Linked DNA regions of Homo sapiens. The protein of the gene in region 3 interacts with the protein of the main gene of each other region in a pairwise test. Each region holds a gene or a part of one and is shown on either strand. Other genes may lie near its edges. The genes, in order: PLEKHN1, IRX6, NFKBID, ZBTB16, IKZF3, SH2D1B and HNRNPF.

Region 1 (3,991 bases), on a different chromosome or scaffold from region 3:
TCTCAGCTCGGTCCTCCGTCGGCCAATGCTGGCACGGTCAGAGTTGGCCTGGTCCTGTGGGGACCACAAACCTTCCAGGAAGAGCCCTTTGGCCCCTCTCCCGTGCAACTCTCTGAGGCTGCAAGGGGCTCCCTCCAGTCTGAGTTCCCCTGAGGAACCAGGGTCCCCAACACACACCTACCCGACAGCCTTCTGCCCCACTTTCGTCTGCCACCCCGTAAGCGCTCACCGGTGTGTGCTGGGAGGAGCAGCCCACGGTGGATGGCACTGAGGACTCAGGCAGGGAGTGGCTGGTGCGGGTGGAGGGGGGCGCCAAGCACCCCGAGTCCCAGCTGGTCTGTCCGCCTGAGGAGAGTGAGCCTCGGCCACTGCCCATAACCTGGATGGGCAGTGAGTGGGGGTGAGTGAGGGCTGGACCCCCTCCCCACCCGCCCCTGCCTGGACCCACCGTGCTGTCCCCCCTTTTATCTTTTTGGGACGAAGTCTTATTCTGTCGCCCAGGCTGCAGTACAGTGGCACGATCTCGGCTCACTGCAACCTCCGCCTCCTGGTCAAGCGATTCTCCTGCCTCAGCCTCCTGAGTAGCTGGGGTTACAGGGATGTACCGCCATGCCCGGCTAATTTTTTTGTATTTTTAATAGAGACAGGGTTTCTCCACGTCGGTCAGGCTGATCTCGAACCCCTGACCTCAAATGATCCGCCCGCCTCAGCCTCCTAAAATGCTGGGATTACAGGCGTGCGCCACCACGCCCGGTCTGCTGCCCCCTTTTTACCACTGCCCAGGACCTGGGCTGTGGGGCCTATTGACCCCTCACCTGCGACCCTGGGAAGCTCTCGGCACCAGGCAGCGGCGGGGCCCCCTCCCTGTGGGTGACAGCGCGAAGGCACAGCAGCCAGTGACCGTAGTCCTCGTAGCTGGCGCACACCACGCGGATGGTGTTGATGAGGGGGCCTGGCATACAGATGCTGTGAGGGGCTGGCGGGGGGGTGCACCCCTCAGCGCCCCCACTAAAGAGTCGGGCGTCCCCCAGGCTCCCGCCCCACCATGGCCTGGCCAGGCGGGAGGCAGAACCAGGGTCAGGGCCCTACCTTCAATCAGGAAGGAGCGGATCTGCTTCTCCTTCTCCTCCAGGTTGATGTGGACGGCACGGAGTGGGAGCTCCCCCTGCGGAGCAGAGATTGAGGGCCAGGCCTTTGTAGGGGCAGCCCCGGGGCCCCGCCTGGCCTCATCCCACCCTCTTGCCCTCCAGAGCTTGGCTGGGTACTTGGAGAGCTGGGCACCGAGGCCACCACCCTGAGGGAGGCCAGTGGGTCCCATGTCTCCTGGGGCTACCACCAACCCTGGCGCGGGGGCCTTCGCCGGCTAGGGGCAGACACACAAAGCCACAGGACTGGCCTCTTGGGGTCCCCAGAGAAGAAGTTGGGCCGGGTGAACCATGGGGAGGGCCCTGTGTTTGTTCCTCAGTGACTGAAGGTTACCGTGAGTGCACACCCCCTTCCCGGAGCCCGCCCTGGAGGACACACGCACACGCACGTGTGCACACACACGCCTCACGGGCAGGCACACACAAGGGAGTCCCCGGGAGGGGCTCTCAGCCCCATGCTGCCCGCCCCAGGGTGACGGTCAAGAACCTCAGGGTGAGAACCTCAGGGCGGGCAGGGGCTCCTCCATGTCACAGCGGAGACCAGACTGACCAGGACCGCGGGCTGGGTGGGCAGGGCCCTGCGCTCTGTCTCAACAAGCCCCGAAATACAGGTTCCTCCTGCATGGCTGCCCCCTCCCACCCCCACACAGCTGCCTCCCTGGGGCGGGCCCACAGTGGGGAGGGGCCCACCTTGAAGCAAAGCCCGTCCAGCTCCTCGGAGAAAATGGCCAAGGACGTTGGGTACAGGACCAAGAGCCGGTCCCACTGCTCCTGGGTGGGTGGGGGTGGGGTCAGGCGATGAGGGAACTGAGCTGCTGTTGCACCGCCCTGCCCACCACCATGCACCCCTCCCATCCCCCTACAGCCCCACGCACCTCCCACCCACCTGTGCGGGCAGGTGCTGCAGCTTGACCCTCGAGGCACAGACAGCACTGCCGCCGGGTTCGTGCCCTGACGCCGTCCGCAGCCGGGTTAGACGGCGCTGCAAAGTCCAGGGGAGTTCGTCTCCGCAGGACCCCTGTGAGGAGGAGGTCAGAGCCGGCTGCGAGGATCAGGGTGGGGAGGGGGGTGGGGTCCCCGGCACTGACCTGTGGGGGTGCCGAGTGGCAGCGCCGCGGCCCCCCGAGGAGGGCCGTCTGCTTCTCCAGGTGGTAAAGCCAGCGGTCCAGCTCGGCCCGGCTGGGGCAGAGCACCAGGAGGGGTGCGGGCAGTGGGCCTGCGGGCAGGGCAGAGAGGGCACACACATACACACACGTGCTCCGCAGCCACAGGGCAGGCCCCTCTCCAAGTCCTGGGTCAGGAGTGCCTCTGGGGGCCCGGGAAGCATCCCAAACACCTGTGATCTGGAAGGCGTGCTCTCGGGACCCCTCGAGCGGGCAGACACTCAGCTCCGTCAGCGGTAACAGCCCCTGCCAGGCACAGGGTAGGAGGAGCTTCAGGGATCCATGGAGGGAAGGGCGGCCATGGCCCCACCCCATTGCCCACCGCCTCACCTGAAATGTGAGTCCTTCCGAGCCGTGGGCCTGGAAGTACAGGTGGGCGGGGAATAGCTCCAGGTAGCAGTCGCTGACATCCTGCGCGGGGAGCAGGGTCGTCAGTGCGGAGTCTGGGGAGCCCCAGGCTGATGGGGATGCTGCACCCTTAGCGTGCTCCACCCAGCCCGGCCCCCACCTGGCTGTGCTGGAACCGCAGCTGGACCTTGGCGTAATGCACAACTTTTCCCAGGTTCCTCACAGGCACCCTCCGCCGCCCCTTCTTGAACACACTCAGGAATGGCTGCTCCAGGTTTTCTCGCTGGTTCTCCAGGTCCAGGATGTCCTAGGAGGAGTAGAGCTCAGGGGAGGGGGCCTCCCCTGGGCCCCCCACCCCCTCCGCTCGCATCCACACAGCTACAGGACTATAGCATGGTCTGCCTGTGCATAGCCACACAACACATATGTGAAGAACAGCCCCCCACAGGCACAGAACCTGTGCACAGCCACACAACACATACGTGAAGAACAGCCCCCCACAGGCACAGAACCTGTGCACAGCCACACAACACATACGTGAAGAACAGCCCCCCACAGGCACAGAACCTGTGCACAGCCACACAACACATACGTGAAGAACAGCCCCCCACAGGCACAGAACCTGCACACTCAGCCTTTCCACAGGAAAACAGTCACGGCAGAATTTACACACACGTGCATACATATATGCATACATGCATATTCGTGTACACGTACACGCACACACACCCGATACGTGCACATGCAGGCAACATGCATGCATCCATATATGCGCACACATACACATGTATAAATGCATACACGCACACATGCATACACACACAATAGACACATACATGCCACACAATACAGACACAGATGCATACACACGGGAACACACATACGCACTTATACACACATGTACACACACGCACACATATGCATGGATACACACGTGCACACATACACAGTTGCACATACACAGATATGCACACACGTGCATACATGCATACATATCCACACGCAAATACACCCATACACATGTATACACATACACACGTGCACATACACACGTGCACACATACACATGCACACCTATACACACATGCACACACATGCATGCACACATGCACACTGCATACATGCATACATTTCCACACACACACAAATACACCAACACACACGTATACATACACCTGTGCATATACACACAGATGTGTGCACACATATACACGTGCAAACACATGCACACATACACACTTGTGCACACACACGCACACACAGACACACTTCCCCACACAGAGCTGCCTGGTCTAGTGGTAGAGATGGTGAGATCTGGACTCAGTGGATTAAACC
Region 2 (4,054 bases), on a different chromosome or scaffold from region 3:
GACAAAGACCCCTTCCCTGCCCGTCAGTTCCCATTGGTTGGCCTGTACCGGAAGTGTTTGCTGACACTTTTGATAAAACGGGAAGAATGCCCCCTCTCGCCTCACACCGACCCTGAAAGCTGCCTGACCTCCCCATTAGGTTCAGTTCGATCGGAGGAGCGCGGTCCTCGTCACCCCTCCCCCAGTAAACTTACAACCCAAATACGAACCCGGAAACAGATGCAGTTTCCAGATAAACATCCTGACAAGTCCCACCACTTCCCATGCGCAGGACCCGCGAGGTGGTCAGCTTGGCTCCACGGATTGGTTACGCAGCGGTTAGTCCGCTGAGCTGCAGGCGCCACGGCCTTGTCTGTTACCTTGTCAGTTTCTTTCCCAGCTACTAAAGGAACTGAGGTATGCAGCCCACGCCGCGCTGTCGCAAGAATCCCTGGCCGCAATGCATCTTTGCCTGCACACCGACCTCTCAAGCACCTCTGGCAAAGATAGGCCACACTACATGGGTTCGGACTGATTATTTTTAAGGACACAAGGGCTTAGGAGGGGGAGAAGACGCACAGGGTCCTTATTGGCCGGGTCAGTGATGAAGTTACAAAGTGAGTGGGGTTGGTGGAGGTGAGAGACAGGGGTGAGCAGGAGAGGAAGCCTTGCTGAATCCACAGGAGGAAGAGAGACTTGGTAGAGTCGGTGGGTGGGGCAGCCTCCCAGCCTCCCACTTGGCCTTCCCCAAGGTGCCCTGCCATCTCCCGTGGGGACTGCTAAGGTTCAAGTCGGCCCACCACCCCAGCTCTGCGTGCAAGGACAGCTGCTAGGAGGGTTTCTGTGTGTCTGTCTCTTAGGCAAAGTGAGAGCTCCTGGTCCCTGGCAAGGTCTGGCAGCTTCTTAACCTGGAGATGAATTCGAAACGTGGGGCCCATTTCCAAGATTCTTTCGCAAATCGCAGCCATTGCGCTAACCTGCTGAGAGAGGAAAGGTTGATTAAAACCCAAAGGCTGTTTAGTGGCAATTCTTAGGAAACCTCTGGGTCAGCCATGTCTCTTCTGAAGGCAAGCAAATGGTCTAGAGGCAATTAGCTTGCCAGAGGTAATGTTTGGATCCGTTGCGTAAATTCAAATAACAGTGTAACCCACTTTTCTAAGCCAGCAGCTAATCCTGAGAGAAATTACTACAAAGAGCAGAATCTGACAGTAATTGCTGGAGGCTGCCTCATGCTTGGGGAATGTCCCTTTGTGGGATGAAATTCCCTTCCACCAGGTCCTTAACACAGTGAAAGAACCAGCCAGCATCAGGGGACACTGATTGGCAGTCACTGGCCTGCCTGGGGATGAGCCCTGGGTAGAGTGCTCTCTAAGGACAGTACCAATCTGGGGCCTGAAGCTGCTGACCGCAGGGGCATGTCTACAACTTTCCAGGGGTTTTGGTGGGACACAGACAGGGCTGCAAGCTGGACTTAAGCACTGACCTTAAATCTGTGGTGTGCGTCTGGCCCACAGTCTTAGACTTCTCTAAAAGCCCTGGTGCCTGCCCAACCCTAGTAAACTCTCTGAGCAGCACAGCAGGGACCAGCGAGTCTCCTCTGAAAGGCAGGCAGGGGACAAGGGCGTTTGTGCTAGAGGAGCATGGTGATGCACACCTGGTGGATTTGGCAGTACACTGGACCACACGAATGCAGAGATCCTGGTTGTCCATCTCTCGAACGGCTTTCTAAGTGATTCTAGGTAAATTACAGTCTGCCTGTGAGTTTATTATTATTTGACTTTTAAATAAGGGAGTACTAGAACCTATCTCTACGCTTCCGTCTGAAAGAGCGCTGTAAAGCAATCTCCCGTCAGTTCTGTGGGAGACCTGGGCAGACTGGAATGGCAGAGGGTGTGCAATTGCCGGGCGGGGCGGTAGGTGGGTGTCTTTTGCATAGATACTCCCAGCGCCGCTGGGGGCCCACTACCTTCTGCTCCAGACGGGTACTGGCACTGCACTACAGGCTCGCTCCTCCGCGGGCACGGCGCACAGTTCAGCGGTAGTCCCTGCAGGGCAAACTTGGGGTTTCCAAAGGCTTTGGGTATGCAGGAAGACTCGTCGCACGCGGAGTCTCTGGGGACTGAGAGTCGCCGGGCAGAGGCAGGAGGCTGTCCAGGAATCATACGGCACTCAGGACTTCGTGGCCTAGGCCGGGCTGGGGGTGCACCTTCAACAGCGCTGGCTGTCGCGGTGTGCGCCAGAGACCAGATGCGCGGTTTCTCCAAGCATGGGTAGTGCATGGTCAACCTAGGGCTGCCTGTCTCCGCCGAGAGGAAGTCAGCTTCTTCCGATCCGGAAGGGTCATTGAAGGAGAAGCGGGGCGCAGCCAGGCCGCACTCCCTGCGCTCCAATCGGCCCTCTCGAGCTGCAGCGCACGGCCCAGGCAGTGACTGCGCGCCCTTTCGGAACTCCGTCAGCCTGTCCCCAGCTGTGGCCACTACCTCCTCGTCTTCAGCTTCCTCCTCCTCCTCCTCCTCTTCCTCCAGGTCTTCCAGGTCACTCAGCCGGAGCCCCCGGGCCTCCTGGCTAGCAGTAACTTCTGCAGGAAATCAAGAGCGAGTGAGAAAAGCCCCAGGGCCCAAGGGAAATCCGAGGAATGTCCATCCCCGAGAAGCTTTTAGCAAGAAGCGCCCTGCACTCAGGGCATCCTCAGTGTAATTCACCAGACCTGCCGTACCACCCCTTGCATTTGCCCAGGGTTGTTGGCCACCTGTCCTTGGGAAAGAATTTCTGCCCCAGCCCTGCAACCACCCTTTAGCGGACTCCTCCTCTAGCGAGCAGTGCCAAGCCAAGGAAATGCCACTTGGCGCTGCCTGAGTTCTGGATCTCAGTTTCTCAATTGTGAAAAACCAGGGGGCAGTTTTTACTCGATTTCAACATCTACAAGTGGCTGCTGTTATATCATTTAATTCAGCAAATATTTACTGAGCACCAGCCATCATTTAGGTATTAGGTGTGTAGGGCATATGGCAGCAAGTAAGGCTTCTGGTGGAGCTGCCATTCTAGAGAGGGAAGTTGGGTATGTAAACTTTCTCACAGTGACAAGTATGGCAAAGGAAATCCAAACAGGCTGGCAGAACAGAAAATAACTGGGAGGCTATTTTGGCTTGGGTGAGGCAGGAAGAACTTTAGGAGGTAACACTTTGATGTCAAGAAGAAGCCGGTTGTGTAGAGAATTACAGGTAGAAGGCAGTGCACAGGCTAATGCTCTGAGACAGGCAGGGAAGTGCAAGGGTAAGTCTGAGGACCTTCCAGAAAATCTACCCTACAGGGCAGCTTTTGAAAGACCAAACTGCTTGATGACTTGTAAAACCCTTAAGGTGGGGTGGTGAACGTTTTCAGTACCTTTGGTGTCAGCAGTTAGGCAGCCTAGTGAGTCCTCCTCTCCTCCCTCTGCCTTCCTCTCCTCCCCACCTTTGTTCTTGGGCGCCCATGTCATTTTGTTCTCTTTCTTGAGGCGCCGGCGTGCGTTGGCGAACCAGGTGGACACCTGGGTGAGGGTCATCTTGGTGATGATGGCCAGCATGATCTTCTCACCCTTAGTGGGGTAGGGGTTTTTGCGGTGCTCGTTGAGCCAGGCCTTGAGTGTACTGGTGGTCTCCCGGGTCGCGTTCTTTCGGCGACCGGCGCCACTCAATTCCACTGCGCCATACCTGTGGGGGAGAACCTGGCTCACATTATAGAAGAGGAACAAGGAACTGCAGGCAGAGGACAGTCTGTGGCGTGGAAGTGTGGTTCAGCTCCCTCCCTCTCCCCTGCCGCCATCCACCCTACCTTGGCAGTGGGGGAGGAAAGACTCACAGTGCCAGTCACCAAGGCCCTTCACTCCTTACCGTTCATATTGGTACTGCCCCAGAGTCCGCTCATAGGGATAATAGGCTCCTGGTTGTGCCAGGCTGGATGTAAAACTCCCTGCAGCCTCCTTAAATTCATACTGTGGATTCTAGAGGGAGAGGAAAAGAGAATTCAGGAGTACAGTTGGGGAGGGGGCACATGGGGTGGTAGCTAAGGGTCTGGTTCAAATCCCAGTATGGCC
Region 3 (4,049 bases):
ATCCCAGACCTCCCCCGGCCACAGCCACGCTGCATGCATCCCTGTGTCCACGGACTACATGTTCTGGGGCAATCTGTGTCTGCTTCCTATACTTTCCCCTGCAGATCCCACACATCGTCCCCTCCACGTCCACAGCCCCCAGGACCCCTAACATCCCACTGCCCCCCCTACCGTACCCCACACAATCTGCACTTCCCAGCCCCAGCTCCCACCTTCATGTTGACAAAGGTCCGCAGGTCTCCCCGGGGCAGCTCCAGCAGCAGCTGAACCAGAGTGGGGTTGGCAGCCTGCACGGCCAAGTGCAGAACTGTCTTGTTGCTCTTGATCTCCTGAGGGGAAGGGAATGGCAGAGGTCAGGGCCAGCCTCACACCTAGGTGCCCTCCCACAGAATCCAGGAGTCTTTAAAGACCCTGACCCTTGGCGGAGTGCGGTGGTTCACGCCTGTAATCCTAGCACTTTGGGAAGCTGAAGAAGGAGGATCACTTGAGGCCAGGAGCTGCAGACCAGCCTGGACAACACAGCAAGACCTCATCTCTACAAAAAATAGAAAAATTAGCCAGGCGTGGTGGTGCGCACCTGTAGTCCCAGCTGCTTGGGAGGCTGAGGCAGGAGGTTCATTTGAGCCTAGGAGTTCACGGCTGCAGTGGGCCATGACCACACCACTGCACTCCAGCATGGGTGACAGAGTGACACTCTATCTCAAAATTAATAAATAAATAAATAAGATGCTGGCCCTCTTCTGCGAGCCCCACCAAGAGTGCCTTATTCAGTTGTATGTCTTGTGCACCGCACAACACCACGTCTCAGGGTGTACCATTCACACCATACACCTTCCAGAACTGTACATTTCTCATGACAATTTTCCCACCAGTGTCTGAGAAAGAGACTCCTTTTCCAGTTCTTCAAAGCAACTGCCTTGGCTACCTGCCCTCCATTCAACACATTAAATTGCATCCCGACCCACACAGACTGTACTTTATCTACAAGCACAGGAGTTGGCAGCATTAATCAGTGGACTAGCTAATATTGCAATACTGCACCACAATATTGAGCTGTTCCCATCATATTTGGGGGAAAATAAAAGACATTTTCTAAAATGAAACCTTTTTATGTGTCTTTAAGGAGTTTGTAACGATAATGAATGTTAAACATTTTATGTGCTGATAACAGGGCAAAACCACCTAGTTTGCTCGTCCAAAAAATGATGAAGACAAAACCAAAGCTCTAGATTAAGAGTGATTTGAAAAGACGTAACATCATAATATGTGTGCTTATTTGGATCTTGATTTTTTTTAATGAAAAAAATTATCATTTTACAGCCAAAAGGAAATTTGAATACAGCCAGGATATTTGGTATTACAAGAAAATCTTTAATTTTTTAAAGACAGAGCAATGATACTGAGGTTTAAAAAGTTCTTTTTTTTCGAAGGGCACAGGGGCTCATGCCTGTAATCCCAGCACTTTGGGAGGCCAAGGAGGGCGGATCACTTGAGGTCAAGAGTTCGAGACCAGCCTGGCCAACATGGTGAAACCGTCTCTACTAAAAATACAAAAATTAGCCAGGCGTGGTGGCACATGCCTATAATCCCAGCTACTTGGGAGGCTGAGACACAGGAATAGCTTGAACCCGGGAGGCAGAGGTTGCAGTGAGCCAAAATCACACCATTGCAATCCAGCCTGGGCAACAGAGTGAGACTCCGTCTCAAAAAAAAAAAGCTATGTTTTTTGTTTGTTTTTTGAGACAGGGTCTCGCTCTGTTGCCCAGGCTGGAGTGCAGTGGTGTGACCAAGGCTCACTGTAGCCTCAACCTACTGGGCTCGAGTGATCCTCCCACCTTAGCCTCCCCAAGCACTGGGATTACAGGGAAAGAGTTCTTATCTTTTATTATTGTTGTTGTTGTTGTTGAGAGACAGGGTCTTGCTCTGTCACCCAGGCTGGAGTGTGGTGGCAAAATCATGGCTCACTGCAGCCTTGACCTCCCCAGGTTCAGGTGATCCTCCCACCTCAGCCTCCTGAGTACCTGGGACCACAGGCATGTGCCATCAAGCCCAGCTAATTTTTGTATTTTTTTTAGAGATGGGGTCTCCCTATGTTGCCCAGGTTGGTCTCGAATTCCTGAGCTCGAGCAGTCCGCCCACCTGAGCCTCCCAAAGTGCTTGGATTACAGGCATGAGCCACCGCACCCAGCCATCTTTCTTATTTTTAAAAAACTTATTATTATTACTAAAAATACAAAAATTAGTGGGGTGTGATAGCACATGCCTATAGTCCCAGCTACTCGGGAGGCTGAGGCAGGAGAATCACTTGAACCTGGGAGGTTGCAGTGAACCAAGACTGTGCCACTGCACTCCAACCTGGGCGACAGAGCGAGACTCCATCTCAAAAAAAAAAAAAAAATTATTTGTCCTTTTTTCAGAGAAATACTCCCTGATTTCTGAGTTCTCCCAGAACCCTACCACACAGTTAATTCTTCCTCTTCATCATTTCTTGCTCAACTTAAATGTAATTTCCTCAGAATGACCTTCATTGTGAGCCCCGCATCCAATATAAAGCCAATCTTTTTATTGTCTAAGAGCTCCTTCTACATTCCCAAGGCAGCTCTCATCCCAATTTGTAATTATGTTCAGTTCTTTGTTTACTTATCATCTCCTCTCTTTTCCATTAAATTTTAATGTCTAAAAGTACAAGAAAGTGGTCTTTTCTTATTAAAACATTATAGGTAGCTGGGCACAGCAGCTCACGCCTGTAATCCCAGCACTTGGGAGGCCAAGGCTGGGGGATCACTTGGGCCCAGGAGTTCGAGACCAGCCTGGGCAACATAGTGAGACCCCCCCTCTCTACAAAAAATATAAAACAATTAGCCGGGTGAGGTGGCTCATGCCTGTAGTCCCAGCTACTTAGGAGGCTGAGGTGGAAGGAATGTTTGAGGTCAGGAAGTCGAGGCTGCAGTGATTCGTGATCGCACCACAGCACTCCAGCCTGGGTGACAAAGCCAGACTCTGTCTCTAAAAAACAAACAAACAAAAAGCAACTTTATGCCCCATCACTAGCACACTGGTAGCTACATCATATGTGTCCAAAATTCTGAGTGAAGAAACGAATGAATTACCAAAGTATCAATTTCACCTTCTCTGTATTGCCCAAATGATCACTTAGCTCTACTTTGCAACCATTAAGAGCCTAGATTACCATCATTCATTTCCTAACCCCGCTAATAATGCCTTATCTTGTCTCTACTCAGTCATGCCCGTCCTTCTTACAGTCCATCCCCACCATCTAGCTAATTCTGCTAAACACCATTATTCTTTAAAGATACACAAATATTTTTGAAAAAAATACATGTTGGAATTTGCTTAAAAATCACATGAAAGTGAGAGGCCACGCACAGTGGCTCACGCCTGTAATCCCAGCACTTTGGGAGGCCGAGGCGGGTGGATCACGAGGTCAGGAGATCGAGACCATCCTGGCTAACACGGTGAAACTGCGTCTCTACTAAAAATGCAAAAATTTAGCCGGGCGTGGTGGCGGGTGCCTATAGTCCCAGCTACTCAGGAGGCTGAGGCAGGAGAATGGTGTGAACCCGGGAGGCGGAGCTTACAGTGAGCCGAGATCGCACCACTGCACTCCAGCCTGGGTGACAGAGCGAGAGCCATCTCAAAAAAAAAAAAAAAATCACTTGAAAGTGAGAGAGTGGATGGGGCAGGACTGGCCATGAGTGGCTGGTTATTGATGTTGGACATATGGAGTTCATTCCACTATTTTCTATATTTTATTGGTGTTCAACATTCTTTAACTAAAAAAACATTTTTCGGCTGGGCGCAGTGGCTTATGCCTGTAATCCCAGCACTTTGGGAGGCCAAGGCGGGCGGCTCACCTGAGGTCAGGAGTTTGAGAGAACAGCCTGGCCAACATAGGGAAACCCCGTCTCCATTAAAAATACAAAAAAATTAGCCAAGCGTGGTGGTGCATGCCTGTAGTCCCAGTTACTCAGGAGGCTGAGGCAGGAGCATGGCTTGAACCCGGGAGGCAGAGGTTGCAGTAAGCCGAG
Region 4 (3,326 bases), on a different chromosome or scaffold from region 3:
GCCCTCTTCCATCCACAGCAATTGTACCAATAGCATCCAGAAAGGTACCATACACTTGTGAAAAATTGCAGCAGTTTTTTTTTCTTTTTTTTCTCAACATGGAAAAACTGTTCAGGCACAAAGATTAAACAAGCCCGCGTTGCATCCCTTGGATTGTACTGAATCACTGGGTCCCCCAGCCTCCCTACCTACCCCTGCACCCCAGATCTGCCTTCCCCATATTCATGGCCTCCTCCTCCAAAGCAGCCCAAAGCAGCAATGATATTTACTATTTTATATCAATCTCTTGCTATATATATATATATCTATATATCTATATATTTGTCTATCCTATATATACATAGGATTTTAATGCTTTGAATGAGTGAAGGAGTGAATAGGGAAAGAGCACATGAGGTGTAAATGTCACCAAATGCATTAAGGGACATATTTGTAGGAGCTGGACATGGGAAAGGGACTATTAACCAACGTGGCCTTGCCAGGCTGGAGAAGTTTTTCACTGTGCTGGATAAGGCAGTAGCAAGCAGGGTTGTCAGCAGTACCACAGCTAAAGGCAGCCAGGGGGCCGAAGGAGTCAGGTGGCATGAAGAAGAGGGGAGGACAGATATTCAGATCCCACCTGGGGAGAGACCCCTGTCTACCCTCCTCCTCTCCCCTTAACTCCAGACACATATAAAGCCTCCAGACAGCCTCTTAGCTTGCCCCCTGGCCACTAGGCCGTGCAACATTAGAACTGTTCTGTTGTTGTAGGTAGGAAGTTGGAGAAGAGGCATGTTAGACTCTATTCAGGTGTCTTCATGGGGAGAGGAAGGTACAGTAAGTTCAGAGGTGTCCCCAGACAGTAGCCCTCAGAAACCACACTCCCCTGAGCTCTCCCCATACCTCCCTACTGGGGTCTGCAGGGCCCACGGGGTTGGGTGGGGCATCCAGGTGCTGATTTAGTACCATCCATTGCTGCAACACCAGATTACGACAATACTGCATGATTTAACACACAACCACACACACAAAGCACACGCGCACACGCACATACATGTACAAAGGGATATTTTGGTGGTGGTGGATTTTTTTTTGTCTTTTGTCTTCCTATTCACATTACAAAAGGAAAGGGCAAGGTTCTGCAGAACTGACGAAGGAACTAACAGATACTACAAAAATATTACAATTTGTGAAGATTAGCTCAACCCTCTCAGCTTTTATGAATGGAGCGGGGAGGGGCCCAGGCTGAGTGGGAAGGGCATGGGAGTGAGGGGGCCAGCTAGTTCTATGGAATAGTTTGATTTTTTTCTCTTCCTTCCCCACCAATGTTGAATGACATCTTGCTGTTAAAAATACTGTTTTCTGGGATTTACAGATCCCCTGAGGGCCAGCCAGTCCCCGCTTCTTCCCAGACCAGAGGAGGAAGCCATAGTGCATAATGATTTCTTACAGACGGCCCCTCCCCCAAATGATTTCACCCTTTTCACATTATAAACATGACAACTGTTCTAGTCACGTATTTCAAGTTTAACTTCTTTTCCTTTCCAAAACACTAAGTCGTTACTATAGTTGCAAAATAGCATCCTCCCTACTTTACCATCCCTAATCCACAGTCTAGTGACACCGTCCTCCCAATTCACATCCTCCCAACACACAATTTTAAGGCCTTCAGATTTGGTGGATGAGATTGAAGGGGAGGGCAGGAGGGCTGGGGCCGAGGGACGGGGGGGTCGTCGCAGCAGCACCCATCCCTCCGGCTTCCCTACATTCCTCGTGATCCTTCTCCCCAAAACCGCTTCCCTAAACCACTTTGTAAAACCTAAGATCAAAACGCAGCCACAACTTTCTCAGAGAGAGAAAGGAAAGAAAAAATAATAATAAAAAACTCTTACACATAAAGCATGAGATGAAACGGAGGGTCCGTCCCAAAGCAAACACGAATATTGCAAATGTGCTTTCCAAAATTCAGGAGGGTCGGGGGAGGTTGGGGAAAAGAGGGAGGAAGAGCAGCAGAATGGGAGGCGGGAAAGGAACAAAAGAACAACTGGACAAACATAAGAGGTAGCTTTTAGAAAAACAACACCCCCACCCCAACACAACAAAACAAAGGCTGGATCCCGCCCCCCTCCCCAAAGACCAGCCGTGAAAATAGACCAATTCTGGCAATGAGAATGCACGCACAGAGGTGAGACCACACAGTTGCAAGGATCCAAACACAGGCCCTCAAACCTCAATGGCCCAGCAAATTGTAAGAAAGGTGGGATTCTCTCCAGAGTGTTTTAGGCGGAACGGATGGTGGCCACAGGTGACTTCATGCACCAGCGGAGCCAAAAGTGACTCCCTAGTGCCCTCTGGGGACCATGAGACCCCAAAGCAACATCCCCTCCCCACCCACGCTCTTCGCCCTCCTCGGCCCTCACATTCAGATCCTGAGTATCAACTCCTCCTGCACAGTTCCTGCCAGCTGGGAGGCTGGTCTCCAGGGGCACGGGGAGGGTCTTGACCAGCTGAAGTCTATAAAAACAACTATTAATTTACACAAGAAACAGAAAAGAACACCCTCCCCATTCCTCCAAGCCCCAACCGAAAAAGAGATACAGAGGTTAAGAAAGCTCATGAGGTCACAAAAAACTGAGGTAATTCAAGTACAATGTGCTAACAGGGGACACAGAAAAGAAGCAAAACATAACACAAGGCCAAAGCGCTTTCAAATCCTCCTCCTCCTGCAGCTCCTCCCCCTCCTTCTGCTCCTCCTCCTCCTCCTCTCCACTGTGGACCGAGGGGCGCTGTGAGTCAGGAATTCTGTGCGACTCTCTCTGGACCTGGCTTTTCTTGCTGAGCTCACTACATCTGGGGTCCCCAGTGTGACTCAACAACTTTCTCCCTTGCCCAGCTTCCCTCATCCCACGGGCTGGGTGTCCTCTTTTCCAGGTGTGGGACCCCTCTAGAGAAAGACATCCACAACCTACCCTCGGAACCTCAGCCCATTCATGGATTCCTTCTCCTGGGACTGAAGTAGGGCTACGTAGGGACTGTGGTTTGTTTGGTAGGATATTAGGTATTTAGTTGTGATGCTTTTCCATTTTGGAAGCAGCGCAGCAGGAATCTTGCTCACGATGGTGCTGGACTAGGGTGGGGTATTGGATTTGTTTTGTGTTCTCAGAAGGCTGAGGGTAGGAGGGACCCTGAAGTCAGAGGCAGCTATCCCACTAGGGAACCGGAGAAGGATGGAGACACCGCCAGGTCCCTGAGGGGCTGGGACTCCCCTGGGACTTGGAGGACAGGAGTCAAGGGGAGGCTGGGAACAAAGAGCTGGAGGAGGGGCAGGGGTCCTGAGGCTCTCAGAG
Region 5 (4,049 bases), on a different chromosome or scaffold from region 3:
AACAATGATTTATATCCAGATCACAGTTTTTCATAATTTACAAACTGTACATCATTTGCTTGTCTCGTCTTTTGAATGGAAAGAGTGTGTGTGTTGGGAAAATAATCTTCTAATAAAGTTTACCAGAAGAAAATACTGATGGCTATAATTTTCTCACAAAAATTAAAAGGACATTTTTTATAGGGTGGGCTCTTCCTATCTGACTGTGTTGTTCTCCATGGGTGCAAGGATGGTGAGGAGATGATCATCTCCACTGAGGCAGACGGAGAGCAATTAGTGCCTTAATGGTCGTGTAATTAGCCCTAGAGGTCTCTGCTGTTGTAACCCTTCAGAACAAGAATGACAGATTGAAACCTTCCTACTTAACTCTTTCTAGTTTCCACACTGGGCTCTGAGGAATGCACTTCCTAGACAAGGAATGCTCATTTCTCTCACTTACCAGAATGTGTCCTAAGATGCCCCGTGAGCGCATCTCTTCTTTGGCATGCATAGTTGCAGAGGTGACACTTAAAAGGTTTTTCCCCTGTGTGCAGTTTAATGTGGCGGAGGAGGTTACCTTTCTGAGTAAAAGATGCCCCACACTGATTACACTGGAATGGGCGTTCACCTTTAAAAAGGACAAAAAAGGAGATTTCTGGTCACAGGCAAGTGGAGAAACATATGCACAGATTAGATGCCTAGGGGAAAAGCTCATCTTTTAGACAATTACTGTTCACATTGGGATCAGTTGGGAGCTGCATTTCAAGGCAAGCCTAAGACTTACTTATGAAATCTCCTCTGTAGAAGAGAAAAAGCACCCACTAGCAAGGCTATTTTAGGTATCATATTGAATCAGAGCAAAGAAACAAGAGCAGCTCTAGAAGTGCTTTCTAGATCTAAGTTTTTATATTACTATATTACTTGGTACTCCCTTTTTTTTTTTTTTTTTTTTTTAGACAGGGTCTTCTTGCTCTGTTGCTCAGGCTGGAGTGCAATGGTCCCATCATGGCTCACTGAAACCTTGACCTCCTGGGTTCAAGTGAGCCTGTCACCTCAGCCTTCAGAATAGCTGGGACTACCAGTGTTTGCCATTATGCCTGGCTAATTTTTTAGTATTCCTTTTGAATATAATCTCCTTTGAAAAAAGAGCCAGAAACTAAAGTCCTTACAAGGTGTTGAGGGCTAGAAATTCTCCTTTTTAAAGTCTTCATATGAGATATGGGATGGAATCGACTGGCTCAAGTGCGATGGTTGTGTTTGTATGCATTTCTATAGACTACCTGTTTATTGTCTGAAGATACATTATTTTAAGCTGGAAATAAAAACTATGTCCTTTCATTTACCAAATTTGAACCCAATACAATAAGAAGATCTGCTCTTATTAAAAATGTTATGCAAAAATATACAAAAGATGGCTAAGAAGCAAATCACACAATTCAACTCCTACTTAGAAACTGAAGAAAAAGTATTTGGCTGACCTAGAACACTGTGCTCTCTACAGTCTTTTTTTATTCATAGCATTTGCAATATGTTTGCCAAATGCATGGTGAGGCAGGAATAAAAAGCACTGAGTGAACAGCAATGCAGAGAGAGAGATACATCAGCATTATAGCAAAAATCAATGAAAGTAACCAAAAGTTCCAAATTCCACCACTTCATTTCTCACGTGGCTGCATTAGGAGAGTTTTCAGAAGAATGAAAAAAGCAGACTATTTACCAGTATGGCTTCGCTTATGAACCATTAAGACATTGAAGCTGATGCAGGATAATCCACACACATCGCAGTTCATCTTTCCACTGGTTGGCCTGCTACTATCGAATGAGACAACATGTCTCTCCAACTTAATGTTTTCATATTCATTATATTCTCTTGAATAGCTGTAAGGGATTTCAGGCTCTTCTGCATTTCCCATGGGTTCTGACTTTAAAACATTCTCATCTCTTTCACTGTATTCATCTTTCACTTTCATTGAATCATCTGCAGGGAAGAAAATGCAAGAAATGAACAACGACTATACTTGAAGCTATCAAAGCAGCTCAAACAGCAGAGACCCACAACTGACAATTAAATACCAATCGAAGCTAACAAAACACTGTACATCTACAAAACAAGAAAGCACCATTAGCGTGACCGCACGTTATTTAAATTCAGAACCACAGTCAGAGGAAAACACACATACTTACACACATAAAAATAGACGATAGTGTTTTAGGCTATCCAGAAAATTACAGATAATAGATTTTAGCTAAGTTTGCTCAAAGTGGCCATGAAACAAACATTGAGCAACTCTTCTCCAGTACTAGGGGAGAGGAAGGGTTCTCAGATCTAGTACTGTTTTTGGTGGCTGCAGTTAAAAAGGCAAGGTGATGTACTCTTAGGTTTCAAGGAGAAAATATTGTTTGAATCCTTCAGATGCATCCAGTGTAAGCCATTAAGATTAAGAGTTGACTAGTTAACATAGTTTTTCTAATTTTAAGCCATGCATTGCCTCTTCCCCTTCCACGTATATGAATTGCTAAAACACATCTTATCTCTGTCTCTCTTGGAGCTGATAAAGGCACAACATTGACTGTAGAGGAAGTTGTCAGTACTAATGAAAAAGTGTTGAGAAAGACAAAAGGAAAAGTAATTCTTTCATATAACCTAAGGAGTCACTTTCATCGACACAGGTAAGTGGGGCTCAATCTAAATAAGGGGAAGGACCATTAGGTCCCAAGTTAGGGAGAACTAAACTCAAGGACTCAAGGATTGTGTAATAGGACTGGATAGGAGAGGAGGGACTGGCTCAAGTGAGTTGGCTGACCAAGTACTATCTTAAGAACTGCAATGTAAATGAATGAAATTTAAAAGAAGAGCTGTAATACTCTTCATGAAGAGCATAAGAACATATGAAGAACGTGGGAAAAATATGAAGAACATAAGAAACAAAGAAGGCAAATTTATGTACTTGCACTGACACTAGTAAAACCTAAAAATTTGCCTGATGTAAGAATAATAAACATTTGTAAGGGATTTTGCATATATAAAATATGCTATATAAATGCTTACTTTTTCAACCATTGGTCCTTAGAAATCAAAAGTTGTACCTCCCCATGAGGAATCACAAATCAATGGAGTGTAGGGCTGGAAGGGAATTTAAAGGTCATCTAATCCAACCCTCTTGTTTCTCAGATGAGGAAATCTGGGAGCAGAGATGTTTTTGGTCATTTGTCGAAGGTTACACATCCAGTTACTGGCAGAGGTGTGATTAGAATGCAAAACTTAAGCTTGAACTATCAATTACTTGGATTTGACCTCATGCACTAGACATATAAGGCCTAAGTGGGTTCTTACCAACTGTATTACACACCCTCCCATCAATGGTGTAAATGTTAAAACCCAAAACAGTCTGAAAAAAGATATTTTAAAAAACTACATCCCTTCCAAAAAACATCAGTAAGTGTTGCTCCTCTTGCTGCATAGGAGGAAGTACAACTGCAGCTGTGCCTGGCTTGCTACCTTCAACCCAAGTTTCAATTTTCACTTCTATCAAGGTTACCTTTCATCTATATTAACTGTGTTTGCTTAATAGAGCAAGACAGGGCCTAACCACCATCAGAGGAGCCAGGGCTGCCACACAGTTCCACTGCTTCCTACCACAGTTCATGGTTCACAACTTTTCACTCTTTGACTAGCAAAGATGTAGGGCTGTAGGATAAGTCCAACATGTTTCAAATTTGCCCACCCTATGGATCTGGATTATATAAGAAATGATATCTGTTTCCTACTTGGAAAGAGGTTTACTTCTTTCTCTGGATAGGTCTTCCCTGCTTTCAAGTGGAATTTGTTTGCTTAAGTGTTTATTTTTTATTTTTTTAAGAGAAGGATGCACCTGAGGCTTGTACTTGCCTCCCTTCCTCCATCACTCCAGCTGTGGGTAATATCCCACCAAAGCTTGAGTGCTCTTCAGTTTGCATGTAGGCGTTTAAAAGAACCTCAACGGAAAATTTCAGCTACTTAAAACCAAAAACAGCAGATAGAAAAGGCCAGCAGAAAAGGATCCTTTCCATTTTGGTTAGAAAATGTGAAC
Region 6 (4,049 bases), on a different chromosome or scaffold from region 3:
GTTCATTATCTTGGCTGTGTTCGTTTCATAAGTGTACATACATATGTCAAAATCCATCAAATTGTACACTTTTTATTTTATGTCAGTGATACCTCAATAAAGCAGTAAGACATATTCATGGCATAAAAAGGTAGATGAATATAATTTATCTTTCTAATATATAAACTAAATTTTAATTCCTTATACATATGTGCTTTTGCTGTTTTCATGATTGGTTTTTGGCCTCAGATAGAAAAAGTGTTTCCTATTTTTGCAGTTATGTTCTCAATAAATATGTGGTGTCTTGACTCTCTGTGTGAGACTGATACCCAGTGGAGCCTACCTTTTTGTTTATTCTATGGAAATCGTTGTCGTCATTTATGAGAAATACACTGGACTTATAAAAAACATTTAAAAATCTTAGGCATTAATTTCTCAGTTGAGGTTCAAAAAGGCTGGAATACAGGACCTCTAAGTTTTCCCATATCTTTGAATTGTTTTACTCTATCTATTTAGCTTTCAAAGTGATCGTTCCATGAGGTGCTGTGCACGGATCTCTGAGTCCTTGCTCAACGCATGAACAGCCCACAGATTAGCACGGTCTCATGTTGTGGCCATTGTTGTGGGGAAACTTGTTTGTGTTCAAGTTTTTATTTTAACTAACCTTCAAAAGGTCAGCTGAAGGAAATGGAATCGACTGCACCCTATAATATCAACAATGTGTTCTGCATTTTTCCATGCCATGATGCAAGTGGGAAATCCAAGTCAACAAAGAAATATTTTAAGACTTTTGACCTCTGGCCTTATCACTGTTCCTGATCTCAGTGTATCTTGGTGCAACCTTTTGTGGTACTAATTTTTCAGTGTGCATGAAGATTTTTTTAAACATCTAGGATTTTATCCTAACTAGGGAGTAAGGCAAACTTTCACAGATGTAAGTACAAAAATGTTAATCATTCCAAATTACACTGAGTCCACTGGACTAAATTGCAAATGAAAATTGAAAATAACCTAATGTATGATATGTATACATTATGATATATCAAATCAATAAAATACTAAGCAGTCATAAGGGGATGACCTGCTTTCTTTGATGGGGAAAGAGACCTACAATTATGGAGAAAACAGGTTGCAAGCCATCATGTATAATGAACCATTTATGTACATATATTGGTTTATAGATGCGCAGAGAAGTCTGGAGAGATGTATGCCAAAATATTAAAAATGGTGATTTCAGAGTGGTGAGACTGATATAGTTTGTTTTGTTTTTTATACCTTTCTCTATATTTGATTTTCTAAAATGAATTTTCATTAGCTTGATAAACCACCACAACAAAATGGATCATTTCTTTTCTTTCTGTACTCTACAATCCTTGCAAAAGTCTCAGAATCTGAGACTCATAAATGACTCTCAAGGCAATAGATAGACATTGCCATTATTATTCTTAATGAGAGCATGCAGTAGGTTAGGGCTCAGGTCTTCCTCACCTGCAGCCTTCCTATGGCTTTGCAAAGTCCTCCTTTTCTTCACACTTGCAGATGAATCCTTTGCACCTCCTAATATCTACTCCATTTAATTTTACTGATGATAAAGGCAGACAGTTTAGACACTCACAAAGTCACACTACACAGACAACCTTTTACACACTGGAGTTTTCTAGACACTCTATTACATTGTAAGATCAGAAAACATTTCCTGTCCACAGTTACCACATAGCTTTCTGGTTAGTGCCATATGCTGCTAGGTCAGCTCTCTCTGTGACCTCCTTCTTTTATTTCTAACCTTCCTCACAGTATTTTCATCACTAAATATTTAGCTCTGTGAAAGTCCTGAAGTATCGGGGGAACCAGCCCCCAATATTTCAACGTAGGTTCTTTTCTATTCTCCCTAAGTGTCGGCCAGTCTAAGAAATAAAGGGAAAGAGTACAAAACAGAGAAATTTTAAAGCTGGGTGTCCAGGGGAGACCCATTTTAATGCAGCAGAGAAGAAGGGGACACTGCATATCAGAGTCCACTCCCAAGCCCTCAGGTCCCCTGCTTGGGCATTTTATAACACAGATCCAAGGTGATTACCTGAAACATATTTCAGTGAAGCTGGGGACATTGGTAAGAGAGGGAATGTAATAACATATTAGCAATTTGGCCCTAGGCAAGCTATTAAATAAGAAGCTACAGTTTATTTTCTCACAAAATAGTGATCATGTCGCCTACCGCAAAGGGATTGCAAATGACAAATAAGATAATGCATGTACCATGCTTAGCAAAATGTTTGGCTCATAGATAATACCTACATGGTAACTTTTTCTGTGTCAGTGAAGACAAGCAGGCTAACACTTGTATCATAATAGTAATTCTTGCTTTGCTTGCAAAGGGTTGTATCTTGAAGCATGAATTGGTTGATGTGACCTCTTCAGAGAAACCTTTCCTGTACCCAATGGAAAGCAGCAGCTGTGTCTCTCCCTGTCATATGACTCTGTTTCATTTTCATCATATTTTCTCCTCTTACTGAAATTAACTTCATGAGGGCAGAAACATTGCCAGTAGTATTTATCACTGTATTACCAATGCTTAGGACCACGCATGGAACATAATAAGTGCTCAGTATATGCTTGTTGAATGAATGAAGGTTCCACTTATTCTCCTAAAGTCTCAGCTCCAATATCTGGTTCTCCCCTTTTTGCTGTCAGCTCTACAGTGCCCTAATGATAGTCCAATCATCATAATTATCACATGCATCACTGTGTCTGTTTACTTCTTTATTTTCCCCACTAGGCTCTGAGTTGTGTTGAAGGCATCAACCGAGTGTCTAGCACACTGTCTGACATATGAGAGAATTCAAATATTTGTTGAACAACTAGAATTTAATAGTCCATACTTATCTGTATGATAATACATTTTTACAAGGCCCTATGAGGAGATAGCTTCAGGGGTCACTTGACCTAAGCCTTAAGCCTGAGGGTGAATGAAATGTTGTTTGCCTTTCAGTGACATGTGTAGGGAGGTGGGTGAGACCTGATCATGTGCAGGGGCTTAACAAATATTTATTTTTGCCTCTCCACTTGGTTTATTTTCATTTTTTAGCTTCTCTTTTTTTCTCTTCTTTTTTTTTTTTTTTTTGAGATCAAGTCTCGCTCTGTAACCCGGCTGGAGTGCAGTGGTGCGATCTTGGCTCACTGCAACCTCCGCCTCCTGGGTTCAAGCAATTCTCCTGCCTCAGCCTCCTGAGTAGCTGGGACTACAGGCGCATGCCACCACACCCAGCTAATTAGTTTTGTATTTTTAGTAGAGACAGAGTTTCACCATGTTGGCCAGGATGGTCTCAATCTCTTGACCTAGTGATCTGCCCGCCTCGGCCTCCCAGAGTGCTGGGAATACAGGTGTGAGCCACCACGCCTGGCCCATTTTTTAGCATCTCTTAGTGACCTTTGCTTTAGATGAATATGCAAGATGGGCTGATGCACCACAGAACAGTTGAGAATAAATATCAATTTTCAAAGAGAATCCCAATATAGGCTGGGTGCAGTGGCTCATGCCTGTAATCCCAGCACTTTGGGAGGCTGAGGTGGGTGGATCACTGGAGCCCAGGAGCTCGAAATCAGCCTGGGCAACATAGCGAGACCCCATGTCTACAAAAAATTTAAACATTAACCAGGCATGGTAGTGCGCACCTGTAGTCCCAGATACTCAGGGGGCCTGAGACAGGAGAATCTCTTGAACCCAGAAGGTTGAGGTTGCAGTGAGCCATGATCGCACCACTGCACTCCAGCCTAGGAGCTGGAGTGAGACCCTGTCTAAAAAAAAAAAAAAGAAAGAAAGGAAGGAAGAGAATCCCATATTGACCATATACCCTGAGATCCTGGCCAAGGTCTGTCCTTGCACCTTCTTGTTTTTTCCCTTCCCACTGCTTGCCCCAGCACAACTAGCTCTTCACCGTCTCCCGTCCAGAGACACAACAGTTTCTGTTGCCATCATTTCCCAGCTTCATTGTGTTCTCCACGTCAAATTGAAGTTCCTAAATTCACCAGTCTTTTCACTTCCCTGCTCAGAAACCATCCATGTTTCCCTGTTA
Region 7 (4,049 bases), on a different chromosome or scaffold from region 3:
CATCTTAAGACTTCTAGCCTCCATAACCGTGAGAAAATTTGTTACTAGTCTGTATTACTTTGCATGGCAGCCCTAGCATACTAATACAACGTGTTACCAAACCAGACAAAAACATCACAAGAAAACTAACTTCTGAATTCTATGTACTTTAAGAGGATCGTATATGGTATCTAACACCAACTTAAATTAGAAAAGATATGTATTTGTCATAAACATCATAATTCTATTAGATGGCACTATTCTAATCAAATAACTTATGATGGATTTATCGGGATATAACAGTAAGTAAGAGTATCTGTATTTGTATTAGGTGAAGCATTTTGTCTAACAGGAGGCATACCGTTAGGATAAATCTAATAGGAGTCTTAATCTGTCATGCCTTTTCTTAATTATGATGGCTTTTTTTTTTTAAACGGGGTCTTGCTTTCTTGCTCAGGGTGGTATGCAGTACTGCAATCACAACTCACTGCATCCTCTATGTCTTTACAAGTGTTCGCTATCATACCTGGCTAATTAAAAATTCTGTTTTTGAAAAGATAGGGTCTTGCCATCTTGCCCAGGCTTATCTTGAACTCCTGAGCTCAAACCATCATTCCACTCTCGGTTCACTGCAACCTCCACCTCCTGAGTTCAAGCAATTCTCCTGCCTCAGCCTGGGATTACAGATGCACACCACCACACCTGGCAAATTTTTGTATTTTTAGTAGAGATGGGGTTTCGCCACATTGGCCAGGCTGGTCTTGGACTCCTGGCCTCAAGCAATCCGCCTGCCTTGGCCCTGCTGGGATTAAAGGTGTGAACCACCCCGCCCAGCCTGTGTCATTTTCAAGAGATCTTTTTCCTAGCCCCAGCCCATATAGTTATCTGAACTTACAAAGCGTTGATGTTCTTCTCTAAATTTTTACACTTACATCTACAATGAACTTGGAATTGATTTTTTCATTTCCAAAAGAGTTTTACAATTAATCAAGTATCACAGGCTAATTTCACTCAAGAACTCAGATGCAAAAGTCCAAACCAAGTATCAGTCAACCTAATCCAGCAATATATAAAGCGATATTATGACCAAGTTGGATTTCAGGAATGCAAGTGTAGTTGATCATTTCAAACTCAATCACTGCAATTTCTCATACTGATGTATCAATGGAGACAAAGTATAGAGGTACTTTTTTAATGTTTTATGAGAAATGCTAAGCTGAATTTATGTCAAGGAAGAACTGAGGCCATATATAGTGGCTCACACCTGTAATCCCAGCACTTTGGGAGGCCGAGGTGGGCAGATCACTTGAGCTCAGGAGACCACCCTGGGCGACATGGCAAAACCCCTTCTCTACAAAAAATACAAAAAAAAATAGCTGGGCATGTGGCACACACCTGTAATCCCAGCTACTTGGGGGGATGAGGCAGGATTGCCTGAGCCCAGGAGGTTGAGGCTGCAGTGAGCTCTGTCCACACCAGGGCACTCCAGTGTGGGCATCAAAGTGAAACCCTTTCTCGAAAAAAAAAAATGTGGAGGGCTGGGCGTGGTGGGTGACTCACGCCTGTAATCCCAGCACTTTGGGAGGCCAAGGCAGGTGGATCACTTGAGGTCAGGAGTTTGAGACCAGCCTGGCCAACATGGTGAAACCCCCCACCCCCTGCCACTCCACCATCTCTACTATTAGATGGGCGTGGTGGTGCTGCACACCTGTAATCCCAGCTGCTCACGAGCCTGAGAATCGCCTGAACCCAGGAGGCGGAGGCTGCAGTGAGCCTGGATCCTGCCACTGCACTCCAGCCTGGGTGACAGAGTGAGAATCCGTCTATAAAAAAAAAAAAAAAGGAAAACAAAAACAAAAGTACATCTTAGAGCGATCACATGAAAAAGTATTCCTGCTAATAAATGAAAAGGAATCGATTATTAAAATATCACTAATTTGAAAACCATTTAAGAAAATAATGGATCTACATAATGATCATTAATAGCTGCTGTAACATGACAAAAGAGAAGATACCAACCAATATGTGCCTCCGGTTGGAGCACAGCACCTCAAGTAAGTTTTCTTTCCAAAAACTCTCATCTGAATCAAAACTACCTCCAGACTGGGTGCGGTGGCTCACACCAGTAATCCCAGCACTTTGGGAGGCTGAGGCGGGTGGATCACCTGAGGTCAGGAGGTTGAGACCAGCCTGACCAACAAGTTGATACTCCGTCTCTACTAAAAATACCCCTGTAATCCCAGTTACTCAGGAGGCTGAGGCAAGAGAATTGCTTGAACCCAGGAGGCAGTGAGACAAGATCACACCATTGCACTCCAGCCTGGGCAACAAAACCAAAACTCCGTCTCAAAAACAAAAATAAAACCAAAACCAAAAACTACCTCTAGAGGTAACTATCACTTTACAGGAAATATAAAGAACAGACACTCAAAGACCACCACGGAAAAACAATCAGAAAAATGCGAAGTGTGGGGAAGGAATGCTGCAAGACAGCCCGACAAATATAACGGGGGATGGAGCCTTTTAAGAAAGGGGAACCTCTAGATGATCACTTACACAGCATCCATTCACCACGCTTGAAATGTGTAAGTGTAAAACTCACACTGGATTTTGACAAGTTCACAGGATTTTGTTTTTAATTATTTTAGTCAAGATCATGGAGAAATGAAAAAGTGTTTTAAAATTACATGCAAAATAGTAGTGGATATATATTAGGTTAAATTATTAATACAATGAATCATGTTTCCTTTTACCACTAAAGAATATAAGATTACATTTATAGCATACATTATATTTCTATTGGACAGTGCTGCTCTGAATTTAAAAAGTTATCTACAAAATATAAGGTGTGACTTTGGATCCTGACTCAAACCAACCAGCTGTTTAAAATATTTAATACATGCCGGGCGCGGTGGCTCACGCCTGTAATCCCAGCACTTTGGGAGGCCGAGGCCGGCGGATCACGAGGTCAGGAGATCGAGACCATCCCTGCTAACATGATGAAACCCCGCCTCTACTAAAAATACAAAAAATTAGCCGGGCATGGTGGCGGCCGCCTGTAGTCCCAGCAACTCGGGAGGCTGAGGCAGGAGAATGGCATTAACCCGGGAGATGGAGTTTGCAGTGAGCTGAGATTGTGCCACTGCACTCCAGCCTGGGTGACAAGAGCAAGATTCCGTCTCGGAAAAAAAAAAAAATTTAATACAGAAACACTTAAACCCTGGATACTTGATATTTTGGAATGTATTTTTAGGCATGACAGCAGTATCATGGTTAGGTTTTAAAAGTTCTTAGAAATACTGCGGATTTATTTATTAATAAAGACCTTATTGGTCTGGGATTTGCTGTAAAATAAGCCAGGGCGGTCTTGGCTGAGCTCAGTTCTCCCTCTGCCCACCCTGTTGCCCTCCACAAGAACCGTAGCTCAGGGCAACTAAGACAGGGCAAGGGCCCTGGCAGGGGAGGGGTGTCCCGGTCCAACTTGGGACCCAGTTGGGACTGGGTCCCAAGTCCCAATTGTGTCCCTGGACACATGACTTCTCCCAACCTCCATTTTCTCATCTGAAACATGGGGCTAATAGCAAGCCCTTCTGGAGTAGTCCTGAGCATGTAATTAGAAAATGGAGTAAAACTTCTAGGACCTAGTAAGAGTCAACTAATGTGGTTCTCCCGAAGAGCAGAGAACCAGAGCTCAGTGGGGGAGAGGGAATTAGAGAAGTCACCTCCAAGGAAAGGGCCTGTCACATTTCTGCAGCCCCTGCAGGCATCTACCCCCACCGGGCTCTCATTTGCCTCCAGGCTTTCCAAGGTTCTGGCCACGTGGGAGAAGTAACTTTCTATTTACTCAGTCTTTTCCCTTAAATAAATTCCATTTTTTACCTGAATAAAGCTTTATAACGCTACCCTTAACAGAAAACTTGGCAGTTTACAAAAAAGTGGCCGGGCACGATGGCTCACGCCTGTAATCCCAGCACTTTGGGAGGCAGAGGCGTGAGAATCGCTTGAGCACAAAAGTTTGAAAATCAATCTGGGCAACATAAGGAGACCCCATCTCTACAAAAAATACAAAA

Evidence for each region.
Region 1: the proteins of NFKBID (region 3) and PLEKHN1 interact in binary tests that used the Homo sapiens proteins (3 or more experiments, as listed by UniProt).
Region 2: the proteins of NFKBID (region 3) and IRX6 interact in binary tests that used the Homo sapiens proteins (3 or more experiments, as listed by UniProt).
Region 4: the proteins of NFKBID (region 3) and ZBTB16 interact in binary tests that used the Homo sapiens proteins (3 or more experiments, as listed by UniProt).
Region 5: the proteins of NFKBID (region 3) and IKZF3 interact in binary tests that used the Homo sapiens proteins (3 or more experiments, as listed by UniProt).
Region 6: the proteins of NFKBID (region 3) and SH2D1B interact in binary tests that used the Homo sapiens proteins (3 or more experiments, as listed by UniProt).
Region 7: the proteins of NFKBID (region 3) and HNRNPF interact in binary tests that used the Homo sapiens proteins (3 or more experiments, as listed by UniProt).

The regions. Positions count from the first base shown.
Region 1 is NC_000001.11:969,249-973,239, reverse strand, and holds part of PLEKHN1 (pleckstrin homology domain-containing family N member 1), read right to left. Parts: intron 2,964-3,991; coding exon 2,817-2,963; intron 2,720-2,816; coding exon 2,639-2,719; intron 2,555-2,638; coding exon 2,482-2,554; coding exon of another isoform or gene 2,362-2,481; coding exon 2,234-2,361; intron 2,164-2,233; coding exon of another isoform or gene 2,128-2,163; coding exon 2,032-2,127; coding exon of another isoform or gene 2,021-2,031; intron 1,917-2,020; coding exon 1,836-1,916; intron 1,166-1,835; coding exon 1,090-1,165; intron 953-1,089; coding exon 816-952; intron 380-815; coding exon 230-379; intron 55-229; coding exon 1-54. UniProt on the Homo sapiens protein: Controls the stability of the leptin mRNA harboring an AU-rich element (ARE) in its 3' UTR, in cooperation with the RNA stabilizer ELAVL1.
Region 2 is NC_000016.10:55,327,203-55,331,256, reverse strand, and holds the end of IRX6 (iroquois-class homeodomain protein IRX-6), read right to left. Parts: intron 3,962-4,054; coding exon 3,852-3,961; intron 3,672-3,851; coding exon 3,364-3,671; intron 2,558-3,363; coding exon 1,946-2,557; intron 960-1,945; coding exon 952-959; 3' UTR 501-951; downstream 1-500. UniProt on the Homo sapiens protein: Transcription factor. Binds to the iroquois binding site (IBS) motif of target genes to regulate gene expression; functions as a transcriptional activator or repressor. Modulates expression of RCVRN, VSX1, BHLHE22/BHLHB5 and TACR3/Nk3r.
Region 3 is NC_000019.10:35,890,162-35,894,210, forward strand, and holds part of NFKBID (NF-kappa-B inhibitor delta), read right to left. Parts: intron 3,007-4,049; coding exon of another isoform or gene 2,899-3,006; exon of another isoform or gene 2,542-2,898; intron 330-2,541; coding exon 213-329; intron 1-212. UniProt on the Homo sapiens protein: Regulates the expression of IL-2, IL-6, and other cytokines through regulation on NF-kappa-B activity. Functions in the regulation of inflammatory responses.
Region 4 is NC_000011.10:114,251,162-114,254,487, reverse strand, and holds part of ZBTB16 (zinc finger and BTB domain-containing protein 16), read right to left. Parts: 3' UTR 1-3,326. UniProt on the Homo sapiens protein: Acts as a transcriptional repressor. Transcriptional repression may be mediated through recruitment of histone deacetylases to target promoters. May play a role in myeloid maturation and in the development and/or maintenance of other differentiated tissues.
Region 5 is NC_000017.11:39,790,977-39,795,025, forward strand, and holds part of IKZF3 (zinc finger protein Aiolos), read right to left. Parts: intron 1,958-4,049; coding exon 1,697-1,957; intron 608-1,696; coding exon 440-607; intron 1-439. UniProt on the Homo sapiens protein: Transcription factor that plays an important role in the regulation of lymphocyte differentiation. Plays an essential role in regulation of B-cell differentiation, proliferation and maturation to an effector state.
Region 6 is NC_000001.11:162,405,335-162,409,383, forward strand, and holds part of SH2D1B (SH2 domain-containing protein 1B), read right to left. Parts: intron 1-4,049. UniProt on the Homo sapiens protein: Cytoplasmic adapter regulating receptors of the signaling lymphocytic activation molecule (SLAM) family such as CD84, SLAMF1, LY9 and CD244. In SLAM signaling seems to cooperate with SH2D1A/SAP.
Region 7 is NC_000010.11:43,402,496-43,406,544, forward strand, and holds part of HNRNPF (heterogeneous nuclear ribonucleoprotein F), read right to left. Parts: intron 1-4,049.